2 separate regions of the Homo sapiens genome follow, and region 2 is linked to region 1. A link means that fine-mapping ties the variant in region 1 to the expression of a gene that starts in the linked region. Tissue or cell type: whole blood. Region 1 holds a variant in brackets; the other region holds the start of a gene. All regions are shown on one strand. Distances are from middle to middle.

Evidence for each region. PIP is the estimated chance that this variant, and not a neighbour inherited with it, causes the effect.
Region 2: SPDYC starts here. The variant in region 1 is fine-mapped to the expression of SPDYC in whole blood (TOPMed, PIP 0.97).

Annotation. Positions count from the first base shown.
Region 1 is chr11:65,059,482-65,067,481 of GRCh38, forward strand. It overlaps a transcript of NAALADL1 not described here and a transcript of CDCA5 not described here. Among named protein-coding and RNA genes, the nearest start is that of NAALADL1, 4.9 kb to the left of the region's middle. RefSeq lists a silencer at 7,276-7,570. The variant G/C (reference allele first, on the strand shown) is at 3,765.
Region 2 is chr11:65,165,892-65,173,891 of GRCh38, forward strand. SPDYC (speedy/RINGO cell cycle regulator family member C) reads left to right here and starts at 4,342. Exons shown (of 7, transcript NM_001008778.3): 1 at 4,342-4,370; 2 at 5,436-5,608; 3 at 6,052-6,110; 4 at 6,355-6,440; 5 at 6,543-6,714; 6 at 6,793-7,123; 7 at 7,292-7,483. The coding sequence starts at 5,467. The coding sequence ends at 7,326.

The DNA of each region.
Region 1 (8,000 bases):
CCTGAAGGGAGCCCAGCGATACGAGGAATGGGAGTCCTGGGAAGGGAGGCTGTCCCAGAGGAGGCAGCAGGGGAAGCCCATGCCTCCCTGGCGAGGTGACTTCCTCTTCTATCCCCTGGCTCTGCCTGGACTCCGTCATCCACCCTCCTATTTATCCATCCACCCATCCCTCCATTCACTTATTCATTCCTTCCTTTATACATGCAAGCACTGTTCATTCTGTGCTATACTAGAGCCATGCAAGGCTGTGGGGAAGCAAAATCCAGCAGGCGAGGCAGACAGGCTTTAGGTTCAGCCATGTGGTAAGTGCCCTGTAGAGGGAGGATCACCATGCTCCCAGTGAAAGAGTGAGGAGTTCTGACTAGGAGGGAACATCTGAGGGGGTCCTCCAAGGCTGAAAAGGTGTTCCAGCATTTGCAAGGGCTGAGAGGGAAGTGAGACCCCAAGTATGCCATACACATACTGAGCCTCTTCCAGACCTCACGGAGAGCCAGGAGGGGCTGGGGGGGTCCCTAGGGACTTGAGCTGGGACTTCTCCCACCCTCCCATGGCCTATCCTGCCTTGACTCTGCCTCGCAGGTTGCAGCCCATGGATGGGCTCAAAGATGCCTGCAGAGCTTGGGGGCTGGATCAGGGCAGAGCGTGTGTGTGTGTGTGTGTGTGTGTGCACGTGCATGTGTGTGTGTGTGATTTCACAGACCCCTCTCAGAGCAGCCTCCTTCCTGCTCACAACCCCATTTTGCTGGCACCACCATCTCTTGTGCTGCTGGTGAGGAGGTTCAGCATGGGAGGACTAGGGGTGGCTGGGAAGGGATGTCATGTGATCAGTGACTTCAGGGAGGTGCACCAGGAAGCCACAGTTCTTGGCAACGTGATTATCGACGCCCAGAATATGACCTTGGATCTTATCAGAAGCCCATCGGTGCAGGGAGCATACACCTTCCTTATGAGGACACAGGACAGTCACCACCAGGTGGGGAGTGGGATGCCAAGGTCAGCTGATAAGTTGAGGGACTGAGGCAGCAACCCCATGGTCCTACCCCACCCACTCCTGGAAGGATTTAACCCCTCAATCATGTGAAGTCACAAACAGGACGCCTGGACAAAAGTGTGTGACATCTGAGTGATAACACCTGGGACTGTGGTTTGTGTTGGAGAGTGTGTAAACAGCTGTGTGTGTGACACCCAAGAGATCCACTCAGGCTGTTGGAATCCACTGGTGTCTACATGGCTGTAGGCACCAGACGTTAACTTAGTCAATTTTCTTTCCTTCATCTTTGCTGTGTGGGTGGTATGGCCCCTCCCAGAACATTCTGGATTGTGGGAGTTCCTAGAAATAACTTACGGTAGTTAGAGCACATGAACACCTTTCATTTTCCTGCCTTATTCTCCCAATGGCTCTGGGTCCAAGGGGTCTTCAATCCTCCAGGACCAGCAATGCACTGCTGCTGGCTCCCTCCCCACTCTCCACCTGCCCCACACACTTGCCTCCGTCCCACCCTCCTTCACCTCCCACGTGTACTCACCTTGCCCAGTTTGAGGCCCTGGAAGCCCTCTTAACCCCCAATCCTCTCTGCTTTGGTCACATCCACTGGGAAAACACCATTCTGGTTACTTCTGACTCACTTTCTGCTTCTTCTGCGCCTGCACCCTTGCCCCTGGATGTGCCTGCAGAGTCACGTGGCCTCCCGGACACCATGTTGTGAAGACACTCAAGCAGCCCTGTGGACAGGCCTCATGGTGAGGCGCTAAAGCCTCCTGCCAACATTCAGCACTAACTTGCCAGCCCTGTGAATAAACCAACTTGGAAATGGGTCCTCCAGCACCAGCCAAGCCGTCAGAATACAGCGGCCCCTGCTGGAATCTTGACTGCAGCCTCACGAGAGTCCCTCAGCCAGTACCACCCAACCAAGCCACTTTCAGATTCTTAACCTGTGGACACTGTGTGAGATAATACATGTTTATGGTTTTGGGCTACTAGGTTTTGGAGTGATTATAACCGAGCAAAATAGGCCAGGCGCGGTGGCTCACGCCTATAATCCCAGCACTTTGGGAGGCGGAGACGTGCGGATCATGAGGTGAGGAGATCAAGACCATCCTGGCTAACATGGTGAAAGCCCGTCTCTACTCAAAATACAAAAAAATTAGCCGGGCGTGGTGGCGGGCACCTGTAGTCCCAGCTACTCTGGAGGCTGAGGCAGGAGAATGGCGTGAACCTGGGAGGCAGAGCTTGCAGTGAGCCGAGATAGCGCCACTGCACTCCAGCCTGGGTGACAGAGTGAGACTCCGTCTCAAGAAAAAAAAAAAAAAAAAACAAAAAAAACCACAGCAAAATGGAGAACCAATACAAATGACTAAATATAGACCAGAAACCCGCAAGTATATGTCTCCAATCTAACCCATCCCCGAACTCTTGTATTTCCAGCTGCCTAATTTTTTTTTTTTTTTTTTTTTTTGAGACAGAGTTTCGCTTTTGTTGCCCAGGCTGGAGTGCAATGGCGCGATCTCGGCTCACCGCAACCTCTGCCTCCCAGGTTCAAGTGATTCTCCTGCCTCAGCCTCCTGAGTAGCCGGGATCACAGGCATGCGCCACCATGCCCAGCTAATTTTGTGTTTTTAGTAAAGATAGGGTTTCTCCATGTTGGTCAGGCTGGTCTCAAACTCCCAACCTCAGGTGATCCGCCCGCCTTGGCCTCCCAAAGTGCTGGGATTACAGGCGAGAGCCACCGTGCCCAGCCTGCAGTGGCCTCTTAACTGGCCTCTCTGATTGTATTCTTGTCCCCTCTAGTTTTTTTCTCTACATAGCAGTCAGACTCATCTTTGTGAAACCCAGGTCCGCCATGTCACGACCGTGCTCACAGCCCTCCAAGTCTCCCTTTACACTCAGAGTAACAGTCATGACAGTGGCCATAGAGCCCTTCATGTCTCAGACCCGGTCCCCTCCCTGTCCTCCTCACTCACGGCTCCTGTAGCTCTGGCCTGCTACTGTCCCCTGAGCCTACCAGGCACACTCCTGACTCAGTGCCTTTGTGTTGGCAGCTCCCGCTCCCTAGAACCCTGCTCCCCAGCTGTCCACAGGGCTCCTTCCCTCAGGTCCTTTGTGTCTTTGCTCAAATGTCACTTCTCAATGAGCTCTTCCCTGACTACTCTATCTGAAATTGCATTCCTGGCTGGGTGCAGTGGCTCATACCTATAATCCCAACACTTTGGGAGGCTGAGGCAGGAAGATCGCTTGAGTCCAGAAGTTCAAGACCAGCCTGGGCAACATAGTGAGAATCCATGTTTAAAAATACATAAATAAAATAAAATTGCATTCCTCCCCCTCCCTCAGGCTTCCTCTTCCTCTGTGGCTTCATTTTTCTCCATTGCATCTATCCTCATGTTACTTGTTCATTATTTCTTGCTGCCCCTCCCAGAGCGTAAGTTCTACCAGGGCAGACATCTTTGTTTTATTCACTGCCGAAGCCCCAGAGTCCAGAGCAGTGCCCGGCACCTATGAGGCACTCAACAAGTATTTGTAGATTGGAGGCAAAGCTGACCTACGCCAGCACAGCAACTCAACACTCCTGCTCCAGCTGTCTTCTGTCCAAGGGGTGTTCAGAGCAATAAGAGATGTAAAAGGTGGGCACGAGACCCCTGGGAAGCAGATCCCCTCTGGGTAAGCCCCACCAGACTGCCAAGGCAGCCATGCATAGGACACCTGCGTAACAGGCGCAGGTGCCCTCACAAGATGGGGATGGGATCTAACAGACTTTCAGTGCTGG[G/C]TGTTCCCAAAGGATGACGTTGCAGGATGGAGGAAGGCCCTGCCAGGCTGCAGGGTCTGGCCACCCTCTTGGGCAGGAATACCAGGCCCTTTAGTGGGGAAGGGAGCCTGCTGGGAACACTGGTACTCAGAGCTGCTCCCACTGGGCCTGCAAAGCCAGTTTGGGGGCCAGGGTAGATCCACTGGAGATCAGATAACAGTCGCCAACACATGGAATGCACCAAGTCCACACAAAATCATTCATCCTCCGAGGTGGACACAGTGGAACCCCATGTTACAGATGAAGATGTGTGTCCAGGCACTCAGTCAAGGTCACACCAGACAGCAAGGGGTGGAGCTGAGAGTAGAATGCAGCGCCTGCACATTCACGAAGCTATCCCACCTGCCATCACTAGGCAGGAGAGAGGCATCCCATTCTGCCCCTCACTAGAGAAATGGTGCCAGCCAGACAGAGGAGGCTGATTTGCTAACCCAAGCCCAGTGCCTTGATGACAGAGGCCCAGGAGGTGTGGGCACAGCTTGTGACTCACATGGTAGCCTCCTTTGACTGGGAGAAATGTGTGTGAATGAAAGGACCAGGTAACACCCTGGGGCCCACGCAGCTTTGCTGTGGGACCTTCCTTGACAGGAACCTCTGGGCTGGGCTGGGACTGCTTGGATGCAGTGTCAACAGGAGTGGCTGCAGGGACTGACCTCAGGACAGCCAGTGAAGGATCCCTGAGCTGCAGAACCATGGCCAGGATGCATTCGAATCTATAAGCACTTCTGTGGTTTGGAGCTGGTTGGGGAGGGGGCTCCGTAATAGACTCCATTTCCTGCAGCCAAGCAGTATTCATGTAACCTTATTCGAGCGCTGTCCCAGGCTGAGACATAATTAAATAAAAGCATAATTAGCCGGGTGCAGTGGCTCACACCTGTAATCCCAGCACTTTGGGAGGCCGAGGCAGGTGTATCACAAGGTCAGGAGATCGAGACCACCCTGGCTAACACGGTGAAACCCCGTCTCTACTAAAAATATAAAAAACTAGCCAGGCATGGTGGCGGGTGCCTGTAGTCCCAGCTACTCGGGAGGCTGAGGCAGGAGAATGGCATGAAGCCAGGAGGCAGAGGTTGCAGTGAGCTGAGATTGCGCCACTGCACTGTAGCGTGGGCGACAGAACAAGACTCTGTCGCAAAAAAAAAAAAAAAAAAAGCATAATTAGTCTCTCTCTGTGTCCTTTTAAAGGAAACATCAAATGGGACCATGCTGATGACTGCATCTTATTGACAGAAGTCCTTAAATGGGTAATTGATTTAGCTGTTGATCCAACTACCATCAACCTCAGTACCCTATGATTCCCTTTGGGAAAATTGCAAGACAGCTGTTTGTACAGCAGGGCCCCTGGTCAAGGACAGGTCAGGAAGTAGGTGGTTGGGGAGGTCTGGGATCCCTACAGCCATCGGGTGAGGAGGGTAGAGTCTCAGAAGGGGTGGGCTGCTAAGTCAGAGATGTTAGTCTGGGAGCGGTAGCTAATGCCTGTAATCCCAGCATGTTGGCAGGCTGAGGCGGGAGGATTCTTTGAGCCCAGGAGTTTGAGACCAGCCTGAGTAATATAGCAAGACCCTGTCTCTATTTATAAAAATAAAATGTAAAAATATGAAGAAAAGAGATGTTAGCTCAGCTCAATTCAGCCTGAAGCTGGGGCAGAATCAAATAGTCACTAATCAAGCACTTCATCAGTTACTTTGCCCAGGCCTGATCCCTAGGAGTCTGGTGTAAGTCAAACCAGGCCTGGGGAGAAGCCACAAACCTGAATTTCCATCCTCTTGGCTGTTGTCTCCCTACAGTGAACATAAGGCAAAATGATCATCCCCAGCCCGTTCCGTGTCACACGAGGATTAACGAAGGAATTCTGCATGGTGGATCTTTTACCATCCATTAGACCTAGATGCTGTAAAGTTAGAGGTTACTTTACAGAAAACTGATTAAGATGCAAAATGATTTCTGCCCAGTGAATAATACAAGCCTTAGAGTTATGGGACTTTTTATTTTATTTTAAATTAAAAAAAAAATTTTTTTTTGAGATAGTGTCTTGCTCTGTCGTCCAGGCTGGAGTACAGTGGTGCCACCTTGGTGCGCTGAAACCTCAGCCTCCCAGATTCAAGTGATTCTCGTGCCTCAGCCTCCCAAGTAGCTGGGATTACAGGCACGTGCCACCACACCTGGCTACTTTTTGTATTTTTAGTAGAGACCAGGTTTTCCCATGTTGGCCACACTGGTCTCAAACTCCTGACCTCAGGTGATCTGCCCACCTCGGGCTCCCAAAGTGCTGGGATTACAGGTGTGAGCCACTGTGACCAGCCCGGGTTATGGGATTTTAAAAATAAATGCCCTTTAGAATATTAACCAATTTTGTATGTAATTTAGCAATCTTCTATCAGGATTCCTTGCTTTCTCCCCCTTGACTATATACGTGTCAGTTTTTTGTATTCTTTTTTGCAACCCCATTGGTGGAGGGGGGTTGGGGGCTCCCAGGAGGCCCTGGGCCAGAGGGCTCCTGGGTTGGAGGTGAAACTCAAAATCGATATGTATCTCCAGGCCTGAGGGGTATAGGATGCGGGCCCTTGGGGAGTTGCCACCACCTCTCTCTGCCCCCCAACCCCATGACTTACAAAGGGGAAGGGACTTTTCCAAGGTCACCAGATGGTTAGTGGCTCTTCCCCTATCCCTCCCCCGCCTACACCCCAGTATCCTTCTGCACTTTGGAGTTAGAGCAGGTACCCAGATCCTCCGGGGAGGGACTGCGGCCCCTTTCTGGCCTCACCCCAGTGCTTATCTTGGGAACATCGCCCTTGAGCTCTCATCTCCAGGCTGACAACAACCAGGCCTGGAACCTTCTGTGAGGGGTCGGGGGAGGGCAGGGCCATGTCGGGGAGGGGTAGATGCAGAATGGGTGAGCTGAGGGAGTGGGGGTGATGTCAGAGGGTGGCTGAGGGGCTGAGCTCAGTGTGGACGTGGTGACCTCCTGCTCCCCACCTGAGCCCAGGGCCCACAGACACTTGGTGAAGCTGAAGCTTAGCTTCCAAGTTTATTTCTGGGATCTAGGGAGGAGCTGGCTGAAGGAGCGGCCTCCCGAGGAGGTGTCCGACCTCTGGCCTGGGGCCTGGCCAGGCCTGACCCTGGTCTCTGTGGTCGTGGGGCAGGTCAGGCAGCTTGAAGAGGAGACCTGCCTTCCGGGGGTTTGGGTCACTGCAGGCAGAGACAGCTCGAGTGAGCAGCATGGGGCAGCCGCCTCTTCCCTCCCCGCTGCCATGGCTGCCCGCACACCTGAGCAGAGCCACCTCCGGCAGGGCCTGGCTTTCCTCCTGCAGGGCCTTCACTTCATCCTGGATGGCCTGGGCCTCCTCCTGGATGGCCTGGGCTCCCTCCTTCAGGCTCTTATACAATAAGGTGGGCTGGACAAAGGGTTGCAGGGCTCGAGGTGGGTAGCCAGCCATGCAGGACAACCCGAAGCCCCTCTAGGAGAGCTGGGCTGGGAGGCAGGGAGGAGGCAAGACAAAGAAATGGGGTCCTGGCTCAGGGTCTTACCAGGTTCTGCAGCTTCTCCCCCAGGGCCAGGTTGTGCACTTGGGTGGTGTTCAGTGACTCCCGAAGCCTAGGGTTGAAAAACAGACCCCTCCCACCTCAGCCAGGCTTTTGTTCCAGGCAGCACTCCCCACCCCTCCCACCTCCTGCTTCAGCCACCTGGTCCTATAGCCACCTGGGACCAGTGTTTCAGTAAGAGCCCAGTCTTCCTGTCCCGGCAAAACCACAGGTGGGATGGGAATTGTTCTCCCTGAGTGATTGGTAGCAGGGGACCGAGAGAGAGACTAATTATGCTTTTTGTCTTCCTTTGCAAGAGCAGGGCAGGCTGCTTCTGTGGGTGGGCTAGAAACCCTCTGAGGCTCCCCTTGGAAGGGGTGGGTGGTATAGGGCTAGCCGCTCCTTTGGGCTGTAGGCAGGGTTGCAACAGGATTCTCTGTGGCTCCAGGCCAGTGACAGGGCCAATGCTGGAACCAGCCCTGCCTAGGCGCTCCAGGTCAGCTGTGTATGAATGGGAGAGCTGATCACTCAGGTCTATGGCCTGGAAGCCTCCGTCATGCCCTGCCCCCACCTCAGGACCTTTGCTGACAGATGGGGCTCTGACCCCAGCATTACCTGAGAGGGGCGAGCGGCCATGGGATTGTGTGGACCCCAGCTCCAGAGCCCGACATCCAG
Region 2 (8,000 bases), 110 kb after region 1:
TAGAATGTCGCAGTCTTTCTGATAGTTGCTCTCGACCAACCCCAGCCCGGATCGATACTCCTTTCTCCCCTCCTTCCCCAGCTTTTCTTGGCACAAAGCCTCGTGCCTGGGAGAGGCCGCAGCGCACGACGGCGTGCGGGGATATGGTCGCTTTCTTTTTATTTACATTTATCTTGAAGTTTGGACCTTCTCTGCTTTCAAGTTATGCCGACGCTGTGGTTTTGGCAGCGTTTTATTTTTCCTTTCTTGTTGTCTGGGGCTGTGTGGACAGCAAAAGTTGGCGGATGGGGACCCAGGCAGCCCCTTGGGCCTCAGGACCCGGAAGTCCCCCTGGCTGGCTTGTGACTTTTTAAGATGGAGTTCAGTTCATCAGCGTGACAGCTTTTCTTATTTTCTAACACGCGCGTTTGAGGTCATAAATTCCTCTCTAAGAATTACTAGTTGTGTCCTCCAACTTTGACAGACAATATTTTCTTTCTTTCTTTTTCTTTTTCTTTTTCTTTTTTTTTTTTTTTTTTTTTTTTTTTTTTTTTTTTGAGACGGAGTCTTGCTCTGTTACCCAGGCTGGAGCAGTGGCGCGACCTCCGCTCACTGCAACCTCCGCCTCCCGGGTTCACGCCATTCTCTTGCCTCACCCACCTGAGTAGTTGGGACTACAGGCGCCCGCCACCACGCCCGGCTTTTTGTATTTTCAGTAGAAACGGGGTTTCACTATGTTGGCCAGACTGGTCGCTAACTCCTGACCTTGTGATCCGCCTGCTTCGGCCTCCCAAAGTGCTGGGATTATCGGCGTGAGCCACCTCGCCCGGGTACATTTGATTAATTTTTAGGAAGATGTTCTGTGCGTGCTTTCCTGCCTTTGTTGGGTGCAGTGCCAGCTTATTCGTCCACTAGGTCAAATTTCTTCATCATATTCTTCATATCTTTTACTGCTTTGCTAACTTTTTTGCCTTGCATGTGCCATCATATCTACAATTATGATTGTGATTTGTTTTTCCGTGTGGTTCTGTTGATTTTACACACACACACACACAGACACACACACATGCGGTTTCTTGCTTATTGACTTTATTTTTAGGAGTAAACAAATTACTATATATTTTTTTCTTTACCTGGATTCTGGTTAGGTAATTATACACTTTTTTTTCTTCCTTCCTTCCCTCCCTCCCTTCTTTCTTTCTTCTCCTTCCTTTTTCCTTTTATTTTTCTCTTCCTGCCTCTTTCCTTTCCTTTATTTTCCCTCCCCTCCTTCCCCTCCTCTTCTTACCGACAGGATCTCCCTATGTTGCCCAGACCAGCACTACAGGTGCACACCACCACATCCGGCTGTATATTTTTAAAATCACTACATAAATTCTCTTTCTCCCTAGTTATGCTTTTTGTCCAAAGTTGTGTTTTTTTGTTTGTTTTTTGTTTTTTTTTTTTTTTGAGACAAGTTCTCACTCTGTCACCCAGGCTGGAGTGCAGTGGTACAATCTTGGCTCACCAAAACCTCTGCCTTCTAGGCTCAAGCGATTCTCCTGCCACAGCCTCCCAAGTAGCTGGGATTACAGGCATTCGCCACTACCACCCACCTAATTTTTGTATTTTTAGTAGAAATGGAATTTCACCATGTTGGCCAGGCTGGTCTTGAACTCCTGACCTCAAATGATCTACCTGCCTCGGCCTCCCAACGTGCTGGGATTACAGGCATAAGCCACCGCGCCCGGCCTAAAGTTGTTTTAATATATTAGTGTAGTTATCCCAGCTTTCTTTTAGTAATTGCATATTATTTTTTCTATCTTTATATTTTGAAATTTTTAATATTCTTATTTATTTATTTATTCATGTTTTAGAGACAGGGTCTTGCTGTGTCACCCAGGCTGGGTAGAATGGCATGATAATAGCTCACTGCAGCCTTGAACTCCTGGGCTCAAGTGATCCTCCCACCTCAGCCTCTTGAGTAGATAGGACTGCAGTCACGTGCCACCATGCCAGGCTAGTTTATTTTTGGTAGAGATGGGGCCTTGATGTATTGCCCAGGTTAGTCTCTAACTCCTGAACTCAAATGATCCTCCTGTCTCGGCCTCCAAAAAGTGCTGAGATTATAGGCGTGAGCCAATGGACCTGGCCATATATATATTTTTTGAGCTGGTAGTATGTTATTATGTTTTATGTGTATTCTTTTATATCCTTTTACGTGTATCCTTTATAGCATGCAATATTAATATATGATTTTACAAATTATATATACATTTACATGAATATAAATTTTATAAATAGTATATTAGTTAGCATAGAATAAATTTTGCTGTGATAATTGTAGCAGGCAGAATAATGGACTCCCAAAGATGGCTACATTTCACTTCCCAGACCTGAGAATATGTTATCTCACATGGCAAAAAAGACTTTGCAGATGGTTAAGGATCTTTTTTTGAGACCAAGTCTTGCTCTGTTGCCCAGACTGGAGTGCAATGGCATGATCTCAGCTCACTGCAACCTCCACCCCCAGGGCTCAAGCAATTCTCCTGCCTCAGCCTCCCGAGTAGTTAGGATTACAGGCATGCACCACCATGCCCCGCTAATTTTTGTATTTTTAGTAGAGGAGGGGTTTTGCCATGTTTACCAGGCTGGTCTTGAACTCCTGACCTCAGGTGATCTGCTCTCCTCTGCCTCCCACAATGCTGGGATTACAGGGGTAAGCCACCTCTCCCAGCCAAGTTAAGGATCTTGAGATGGGGAGATTATCTGGGCAGATTGAAGAGCCCAGTGAATCATGGGATTCTGAAAAGTGAAAGAGAAAGGCTGGGCATGGTGGCTCATGCCTGTAATCCCAGCATTCTGGGAGGCCAAGGCGGGTGGATCATGAGGTCAGGAGAACAAAACAAAACAAAAAAATTGCCAGGCATGGCGGCACATGCCTGTAGTCCCAGCTACTCGGGAGGCTGAGGCAGGAGAATTGCTTGAGCCCTGGAGGTGGAAGTTGCAGGGAGCCGGGATTGGGCCACTGCACTCCGGCCTGGGCAACACAGCGAGACTCCGTCTCAAAAAAAAAAAAAAAAAAAGTAAAAACAAATATTCTCCCCAGTGTGGGAGATCGGTGTCAGATCTCCAGGGGTGGCACTGAAGGAAATCAGCCTGAAGGCCCTCCCAAAGTTAAAGTGACTAGCCCACTCCCAGGCTTCTTTTTGGTACACCTTCCTGATCTCTAACCTTAATTACTGGGGGAGGAGGAGAACAGTTGAAAACACAGCTGGTCTAGGAGATTCATTCGGTTTCATGGAACACCTTCTCTGTGCAGGCAGCGTCCAGGAACAGCTGTAGACCACACAGCCAGGCTACCCAGCGTGTGGGCCCAGCAGCCAGGCTGGAACTCTATCTCTACTTACCAGCTGAGTGGCTGGCAGGAAGTTACTCAGCCTGTCGGTCAGCAACCCAAACTCTGTGTGTTAGTTGTTTGTTCGCTGACAAAATGAGGCTTCTCATCATTCTCATCAACTTCACGGGCTTGCTGTGAGGAACACGTGAGCTGATTCCATCACAGACTCCTCAGTAGGCAGCAGTAGGTGTTTAGTGAACGGGCTATGGATGCTGCCCCACTCACTACTTCCTTTCTAGGGGAGGCCGACTTCAAATGCGTGCACACACACAAACAGGATGGCCTGATGCAGACCAGCTGGTCTAGAAAGGCCTTCACGGCCTCAGGGAGCCTGGGAGGCGGCCTGGGGGAGACCATGAAACAGCAGATACACCAGAGACCAGAGATCAGAGAGAAAACAAAGGACCCAGAGATCCACAGACATCCAGACACCAGAGGCAACAAGAAACTGAGAGACTCAGAGGCCCACTGAGACCCAGGCAGCTTGTTCTGTGTTACGAGGGGAAAAATAAAATAAGAAACAAAAGAGAGACTCGGGGGGCCTCAGTGAAACCTAGAGACTCAAGGAGGCCAGGAGATTCAGAGACACCCATAGAGAGCCAGAGACCCTGCCCTAGCAAGGCACAATCAATGAAAAAAAACTCGCCCACCAGGCCCTCGCAGTCCGGGTCTCATATCCCGGCTCAGCACCTTGGCGCTGCATTTGTCAAGAGGGGAACAGGGATCCTAGCTCCCTGCCTGTCCTATGGGGCCTTAGGCCCTGGGGTCCAGCTGGCCTGCCTTCACCCCTCTTGTAGTTGATGAAGCTTTGGAGAGGCTTTCAAACCCTGGGGAGCCACAGCTGGGTGCCGACTGGACTCACTGGCAGAGAGGCAGGCGGTGAAGGCCAAGCCTCGCCCCCCAGGAAGGCCCTGATTGGTGGACGGGCTGCTTTGGGCAGGGCCGCCCTCAGGCTATATAAGCGCACTCGCGGCGGCGTTGGTGTTATGCTCTGGGCCATTCCTGAGCTCGGGTAAGGCTCGCTGCAGGAGGAGGCTGGGTTGCTTGCGGGCGCCTAGATGGAGGGGCCCAGATTGGCCCTGGGGTGGTCGACCGCACGTTCTCCTCGGCCCCGTGGTTGGCTTCTCTCTCTCAGGGATGAGGGTGGGTTTAGGACGGGAGCTTGAAATGTTTGAAGTGGCCCCATCAACTTGCTCTAAATCCAGGTATTTTTCTAATTTCATTCCTCCCTGAGGGCCTCAGTTTCCCCTCGGTGTAAGGGATCAGTGGCCCTTTCAACTCTGCTTTGGTGAGGGGTCGGGGGTGGTTGTGAGTTGGGGCCTAGAGGAGCAGTTAAACTCTTGGGTTTTTTTTTTCTTTTTTTTTGGCCAGGCGCAGTGGCTCACGCCTGCAATCCCAGCACTTTGGGAGGTCAGGAGTGTGAGACCAGCCTGGCCAACACGGTGAAACCCTGTCTCTACCAAAAAAATACAAAAAAAATTAGCCGGGCGTGGTGGCATGGCGCATGCCTGTAATCCCAGCTACTCGGGAGGCTCAGGCTGGAGAATCAGTTGAACCCGGGAGGCGGAGGTTGCAGTGAGCCGAGATCGCGCCACTGCACTCCAGTCTGGGCGACAGAGAGAGACTGTGTCTCAAAACAAACAAACAAAAACCAAAAAACCTCTTGGGGTTTTGGAGACCAAGGGCTTCACTTTTAACCGGCTGTTAGGCCTCAGCTTCAGTTTCCTCGTTTGACGACCGGTCTGAGTTAAACTTACCTCCTTACCAGGATGGAATAAGATAAGGCCCTTAAGCACAGCCCCAGGCACTTAGGAAGCCCTCAGCGGTGCTTGTTGCTGCTGTTACTCTGGCCTGTCCTGGGGTGCCAGGAGGAGGGTGAGGGTGCCACACCCTCACCTATAGCAACTCTTTGCTTCTTTTCTGGCCTCCCCACTCTTGTTGCATCCCGGCTGCCTTCTGTTCTGAGCCCCCAAGTCTCTGCACCCACCCCTCCACCGTCCTGGCCCCTGTCACCACCCTCTTGATTTGTGAGCATCACGGGGGTACATGCTAAGTCCTGAGCCTCCTTTCTCTACAGGTCACCCTGCCCCATCTCCATCTCCTATGAGATGAGTGACTCCCAAGACCCCACCACTTCCCCTGTAGTTACCACCCAGGTAGAGCTGGGGGGCTGCAGCCGGCAAGGTGGGGGCAATGGGTTCCTCCGTTTTCGCCAGCACCAGGAGGTCCAGGCCTTCCTCAGCCTTCTGGGTGAGTTTGGAGGGCTGGCACGGGAGGGGCCGTGAGGTCAAGTGTGAAAGCAGATGTGAAGTGTGGGGTCTCACCTGCCTGTACAGACATCTGAGACCTCTGACCCTCTCCCTCTCAGGTATCCCAGCTTAGGCAGGTGGGAGGGGTGTCCTCTCAGAAACTGGATTCAGGGCCAGGCACCGTGAGTCATACCTATAATCCCAACATTTTGGGAGGCTGAAATGGGAGTATCACTTCAGGCCAGGAGTTCAAGACCAGCCTGGTCAACATAGTGAGACTCCATTTCTATTTATATTAAGAAAGAGAGAGAGAAAGAGAAAAAGGGAGAAAAAGAGAAAGAGAGAGAGGGTTCAGTGGTGGCTTGGGCTTTGGAGCTTCTGATGCCACTCTTCTCCATGGAGGTGGTGGTAACCTGCGTCCTGTCATGTCTTCTCTACCCTCAGAGGACAGTTTTGTCCAGGAATTCCTCTCCAAAGACCCCTGCTTCCAGATTTCAGATAAGGTGAGGGAGTACAGGCTGGGGGTCTCTTGAGGGTCAGGTTGAGTTGGTGGGAATTGAGTGCCCTGGTCTGGTAGGGAGAGCCACTCACCTTCCATCCTTACCCCCTCATCTTTGCACACCACTTCCCACCATTTTACTGACTTTCTTTCCCTGCAGCAAAACCTCCCTGGGTGCAAATGAACCTGGGTGCAAGCCCCTCCTCCTCAGAGAATAACTAACCCCCCACCCCGATCTGTCTCTGCAGTATCTCCTGGCCATGGTGCTGGTCTACTTCCAGCGCGCCCACCTGAAGCTCAGCGAGTATACCCACAGCAGCCTGTTCTTGGCCCTGTGAGTGGTGGGGGCAGGCAGTGGAGGCATTTGCTGGAGGTGTCAGATGGGACAGGGCAGATGTGTGGCCTCTGCTCCCTGACCTTGTGCCTCTGTGGCTAGGTACCTTGCAAACGACATGGAGGAGGACCTGGAGGGCCCCAAATGTGAGATTTTTCCATGGGCCCTGGGAAAAGATTGGTGTTTACGAGTGGGGAAATTCCTGCACCAGAGGGATAAGCTTTGGGCACGGATGGGTTTCCGGGCTGTTGTGAGCCGCCAGTGCTGTGAGGAGGTGAGGCTGGGAGGCAACCTGGGGTGTGGGGAAGGCTGGGGTTCCCACCCCATTTACTGTCCACTCTGCTCCTCCCAGGTCATGGCAAAGGAGCCATTCCACTGGGCTTGGACTCGGGACCGGCGCCCCCACCATGGTGGGGTTCAGAGGGTCTGTCCACAGGTCCCTGTTCGCCTTCCCCGGGGCCCTGGCCTCTCGCCGCCCCACTGTTCCCCCTGTGGTTTGCCCCAGCACTGCAGCAGCCACTTGCTTAAGCCTGTGTCATCCAAGTGCCCTTCTCTGACCTCTGAATGTCATCGCCCTCCCTCCCAAAATTATCTCTCAAGGGTCAAAAACGCCTGGGGTGGGGACTTTCTCATCGTCTTGCCTCCCCAGATGCAACTGGAACCAGGCACCTACTCCCTCCGCAGTGAGTGCAGGATGGGACAGGAGCTGGGGGCTGGTGTGGGAGCTTGGGAGGCAGGAGTGAGGACCAACAATATGAGAGAGAGGGCCATGGGCCTGGGGTCGACGTGCTGCCCCTCCCGTGTGAGCTTGGCAGGTTTCTTCTCTGAGCCTCACTCTTTCCTCTCCCCAGTCTTCCCAAAGCCTCCGGCACGCCCTGGGCACTGAAGCTCTGCAGGGTGAAGAACAGCACGCCTGCTGGCCCACTGACTGACACACCATTGGCTGTGCTCCCACCCCTGCCCCTTCCTCCCAGCCTGCAGCTTGTGCCCACTCTGGTGCCAGTCCCCTCTAATAAATTCATGTCCACAGGACACCAACTGTGCTTAGGTCCTGGCCTGGTTCCTTGACCCAAGGTTGGGGTGGGGAGGGGGTATCTACCAGGGTTACAACATGTGAGCACAGGCTCTGTAACAGCTTGGCCCCTTCCCATTGGTGGCCAGTTATTCTGAGCCTCAGTTTCATCTCTGTGCTATCCATGCCTATGGATGATGAGATCTACACAGTCTAGATGGGATTAAATGAGATGAGGTATCTGCAGCCCTTAGAAGAGGGCCAGGGAGCCGAACGTGGTGGCTCACACCTGTAATCCCAGCACTTTGGGAGGCTGAGCCGGGTGGATCACTTGAGGTCAGGAGTTCAAAAACAGCCTGGCCAACATGGTGAAACCCCTTTGCTACTAAAAATACAGAAACTAGCCAGGCATGGTGGCAGGTGCCTATAATCCCAGCTACTCGGGACGCCAAGGTGGGAGAATTGCTTGAACTGTGGAGGCGGAGGTTACAGCGAGTTGAGATCATGCCACTGCACTCCAGCCTGGACGACAGAGTGAGACTCTGTCT